Linked DNA regions of Homo sapiens: region 1 is linked to region 2. Evidence: fine-mapped expression QTL. Tissue or cell type: whole blood. Region 2 holds a variant in brackets; the other region holds the start of a gene. All regions are shown on one strand. Distances are between the middles of the regions.

Region 1 (2,500 bases), 80 kb before region 2:
GATTTCAGGTGTGACCCACTGTGCCTGGCCAGGCCTTTTCCTTTCTTTCTTTTTTCGAGACAGTGTCTTACTCTGTTGTCCAGGCTGGGGTGGCAGTGGCACAATCACGGCTCACTGCAGCCCCAAACTCCTGGGCTAAAGTGATCCTTCCACCTCAGCCTCCCCAGTAACTGGGAGTACAGGTACATGCCACCACACGGACTAATTTTAAAAGTTTTTGTAGAGATGGGGTCTTGCTATGTTGCCCCAGCTGGTCTCAGACTCTTGGGCTCAAGCAGTCCTCCTGCCTCGGCCTCCCAAAGCATTGGGATTACAGGTATGTGCCACCGTGCCCAGCCGCAGCAGGCCTTTTGTTTTTTTAGAGAGGGTCTTGCTTGGTGGCCTAAGCTGGAGTGCAGTGGTGCAATCACGGCTCACAGCAGCTTCCAAACTCCTGCGCTCAAGCGAGCCTCCTGCCTAAGCCTCTCAAGTAGCCTGGGACTGTAGGCACACACCACCACGCCCGGCTGATTTATTATCTATTTATTTATTTGAGGTGGAGCCTCGCTCTGTCACCCAGGCTGGAGTGCATTGGCCTGATCTTGGCTCACTGCAACCTCCGCCTCCCAGGTTCAAGTAATTCTCCTGCCTCAGCCTTCCGAGTAGCTGGGACTACAGGCACGCGCCACCACGCCCATCTAATTTTTGTATTTTTAATAGAGACGGGGTTCCTCCATGTTGGCCAGGCTGGTCTTGAACTCCTGACCTCAAGTGATCCGCCCGCCTCGGCCTTCCAAAGTGTTGGGATTACAGGCGTGAGCCAACGCACCCAGCCACTAATGTATTATTATTATTATTCTGTAGAGACGCAGTCTGGCTATGTTGCCCAGGCTGGTCTTGAATTCCTGCCTCTGCCTCCCAAAGCGCTGGGGTTACAGGCGTGAGCCACCGCGCCCTGCGGCTGCAGGTCTTTATAAGGCAACTGTGGGCCCTGGACCGCTCCCTGAAAACCTCCCCCTCAACTCCCTGTCTCCTCCCTCACCTGGTCTACCCCGAATCCTTCCCCTCTCGCCCCCTCGCCCTCTCCAGGGGAGGTGAGGGACTCAAGAATCGCGCCCTGCTTCTGTCCCCACCGCGCCGTCCCCAAGCCCACGCAGTGAAAAGACCACCCTTGAGGCTGATTCCGGGTCCAGCTGGGAGCGGCCAGCCGTAAATCACCGCCCCCGTGGGCCGTACCATTCTGGCCGGGGGGACCTGGGAGGGGACGCGCGGAGGGCTTCCCCCGGGGACTGCCTGTATCGAGACTCTCTCCAGCCCAACAGGAGGATGGGAAGGAGACTTGTGTGGGGGCCTCGGGCTGGCGGGTCGCGGGTTCCTTATCCTCCGCCTTGGCGCCTCTCCGCCCACCGCCCACCGCCCCTCCCTGGCATTGGTTGGCGCCAGGGGAAGCCGAGGCTCCATCCTTTCTGCGCAGGTTCCCGCCGCACTCGCGCAGACCTAGCGCGTCCAGGTGGGAGGTTAGTGTGGCCCGGGCGTCCGCTCCTCAGCGGATGTGGCAGCCCCGAGCCATGGCTCTCGCCGTCCGAGTCGTTTATTGGTAAGCCCAGCGGCCAGCGGCCCCCGTCCCCGACCCCCGCCGGGACCCGATTCTCGGAGCCGGGGTCAGGGAGCCCCGGGGAGAGGACCCATGGGAGCCCTTGTATGGGAAAAGGGAGCCCCTGTATGTGGGTGGGGTGGGCGTACGGAGGGGCGAAAAACAGAGGGCGGTCGTCCCTAGGCCCCGTCTTCGACTTGTGACACGCTGGGCATCTCGGGTTATAAAAGGTGGGGCTGAGACGAGTGTGTGTCAATTTCGAACCCCCGACTCCGGGGCTCCGCTGGGGAAGGGGCTGGGGGTCAGCTTTGTAAAGGGACCTAAGGCTCCTCCACCCTAAGGCTTCCCCTCCCCCAATATCCCGAACAGTCGCGGGGTGGGGACAGTGAGAGCCCAGAAGGTTCGAGAATGTCTCAGCCTGTGTTTCAGAAGCACTTGAATTGTTGGCCTCTGCCCAGTGGGTTCCCTTGGCCACGAACCCCACTCCTTTTCTGGCCTCAGTTTTCCGTCTGTGGCAAGAGGGAGGCTCTGTGTCAATACCGAACACGCTTAATTTCTGCAAGTCTCAGGAAGGGTATAATAGGATAGGATATAAATTACGTTCTCTCCACTCCCCAGCACCTAATACTGTGTGGCATGCTGTAGGTATTTAATAAATACGTGTTCAATGAATTTATCCTCCCAGGAATCCCTTAAGAGAGGGGAATTTTAGGCCAGGTGCCGTTGATCACGCCTGTAATCCAAACACTGGGAGGCTGAGGCGGGTGGATCGCTTGAGCCCAAGAGTTCGAGACCAGCCTGGGCAACCCAGGGAGACCCCCCCCTCGTCTCTACAGAAACTTAAAAAGTTAGCCGGGCATGGTGGCGCACTCCTGTAGTCGCAGCTGCTTGGGAGGCTGAGGCAGGAGGATCACTGGAGCCCGGAAG
Region 2 (2,758 bases):
TCAAGCAACTCTCCTGCCTCTGCCTCCCAAGTAGCTGGGGTTACAGGCGCCCGCCACCACGCCCAGCTAATTTTTTTGTATTTTTTTGTAGAGATGGGGTTTCACTATGTTGGCCAGGCTGGTCTCAAACTCCTGACCTCTTGATCCGCCCGCCTCAGCCTCCCAAAGTGCTGGGATTACAATCACGAGCCACCACGCCTGGCCTCAAATATGCAAAGTTTTACATTTAATTTATTTTAGAAATTATAGAGAGGGGGACCATCTACTCACATCTTATAGACCAAGAAAACTGTGAGATCATTCCTGTTGACAGCAGGGCCATCATCTGCTTTGGTGAATAATGTGTTCCCAGCCACCTAAAAGCCGAACAAAATGTGCAATTATGGTAAAATGTTTCCAGAAAGGAAGCAGAATATAGATACAATGATGGAAGAATGCCACAGTGAGATACTAAGCAACCTTTTAAGAGCGTGCAGGGAACTTGTAAACATACCATCTATTTGTTTTATAATTTATTTATTTATCTATTTCCAAGACAGGGTCTCTACTCTGTCGCCCAGGCTGGAGTGCAGTGGTTTGATCATGGCTCACTGCAGCCTCGAATTCCTGGGCTCAAGCGATCCACCCCCCTCAGCAGCCCAAGTAGCTGGGACTACAGGTGCATACCACCACACCTGGCTAGTTTTTTGTTTTTTTTTAAAATATATTTTGTAGCGATAAGGTCTCGCTATGTTGCCCAGGCTGGTCTCGAACTCCTGGCCTCAAGTGATCTTCCCCCCTTGACTCCCAAAGCCCTGGGATTACATGCATGAGCCACCATGCCCAGCCACTATTTGTTTTGTTTCAGTTTATATTTATTTATTTATTTATTTTGAGACAGAGTTTCACTATTGTTACCCAGGCTGGGGTGCAATGGCACGATCTTGGCTCATCACAACCTCCACCTCCTGGGTTCAAGCAATTCTCCTGCCTCAGCCTCCCGAGTAGCTGGGATTACAGGCATGTGCCACCATGCCCAGCTAATTTTGTATATTTAGTAGAGATGGGGTTTGTCTATGTTGGTCAGGCTGGTCTCGAACTCCCTACCTCAGGTGATCCACCCACCTCGGCCTTCCAAAGTGCTGGGATTACAAGCGTGAGCCACTGCGCCCGGCAGAACTTTCTTATATTTAAATGTCTATCTTCACAAAATAGTACCAGTGAGCTTGTTCATCTGCTTATGTCTTTATTGGCCAAATAAATAGCCACGGTGCAAAATCTCTGTGGTCACTACTGTGTTCCCAGCATGTCCTGTAGATGAAGCCGGACAATGTGTGCAATGAGGAATCATTGCTGGGGATGCTGCTTTCTACAATAGAACTCTAAGTAGCAGGTGAAAACAATGAGCGAGGCCCGTGGTAACAATGTCTACGTTTTATTGAATTTTGAAATTGGTTGCATGAGTCATTTCTTTTTCTTTTTTTT[T/G]GGGAGGGGGCCGGAGTCTCCCTCTGTCACCCAGGCTGCACTGCAACCTCTGCCTCTCAGGTTCAAGTGATTCTCTTGTCTCAACCTCCCAAGTAGCTGGGATTACAGGTGCCTGCCACCAGGCCCGGCTATTCTTTTTGTAGTTTTAGTAGAGACGGCGTTCTGCCATGTTAGCCAGGCTGGTCTCAAACTCCTGACCTCAGGCGATCTGCCCGCCTCGGCCTCCCAAAGTGCTAGGATTACAGGCGTGAGTCACCGCGCCCAGCCTTGCATGAGTCATTTTTAGCTCCCTGGATCATGAGCCTTGTCAATCTCCTTGACCCCTGAACCCATGTGGGTCCTGCTATGAGGAGATGAGGGCAGCCAGGGGTCTGACACAGCAGATGCATCTCTGAGGGACCTGACTTGTGTGAACCAAGGTAATGGGTCCCCTGCATACATCAGTAGCAGTCCATGGAAATGTCCATCAGACCTGTGTCCCCTCCTGGTTGGGGGAGCAGGAAACTTCAAGAATGACTAGTAGGGGCCAGAGTGGCCTCAAAGGACCAAAGAGGAGGCTGTGGGGTCATCCAGGAGAGAGGGATGGTGACTGGACAAGGCGGGCAGCCCGGGAGCCGGGAGGAGTGGGTAGACTCGCTGGCATTGATCATGTGGGGCCCCAGCCCTGGGAAGGAATAAGGATGACTCCTGGGGGCTGGCTGGCGGTGCCTCTCCTGAGATGGGGACCCCAACCACAGGTCATGATGTTGACTCCCCCGATCCCATGTGGAATACCACCTCGCCTGGGCTAGGGCCCATGAGGGTGAAACCAAGGCTGTGTTGTCCACTGAGGTTCCCCAGCTCCTAGCACAGCTCAGCAGGCAGTACCTGATCAGTGATGAGGGATTAATCCACCATTCAACTCCTCCAGGGGGCGGGACTGCAGGGCAGGGTGGGAAACGGAGGGTCCTGGCAGGGTGGGCCAGGGTGGGCACAGCAGAGAAGTGATTTAAGAGCCAAGCCCTTGTCAGTACACACTTGTGTTTGGGAACAGATCAGGACTCAGGATGCAAGACCCTGGTCATCTCCAAGGTGAGCAGGGACAGAGGTGTGAGGGGCCTGGGCTGATCCTGTGGCTGAGGCTGCAGAGTGCAAATCTGGGCAGCCAGAGAAGGGCTGGGCCTGTGCGGGCGGCTTCCTGTCCTGCAGACGGGGGAGAACTTAGTGGTGTCTGGGAAATGAAAAATCATGCAGCTGGGCGCAGAGTCTCACGCCTGTGATCCCAGCTCTTTGGGAAGCCAAGGTGGGAGGATCA

Evidence for each region. PIP is the estimated chance that this variant, and not a neighbour inherited with it, causes the effect.
Region 1: SELENOW starts here. The variant in region 2 is fine-mapped to the expression of SELENOW in whole blood (INTERVAL, PIP 0.99).

What each region holds. Positions count from the first base shown.
Region 1 is chr19:47,777,239-47,779,738 of GRCh38, forward strand. SELENOW (selenoprotein W) reads left to right here and starts at 1,465. Exons shown (of 6, transcript NM_003009.4): 1 at 1,465-1,576. The coding sequence starts at 1,548. RefSeq lists silencers at 1,353-1,612, 1,623-1,762.
Region 2 is chr19:47,856,737-47,859,494 of GRCh38, forward strand. TPRX2 (tetrapeptide repeat homeobox 2) reads left to right here and starts at 2,499. Exons shown (of 3, transcript NM_001397347.2): 1 at 2,499-2,535. The coding sequence starts at 2,511. The variant T/G (reference allele first, on the strand shown) is at 1,465.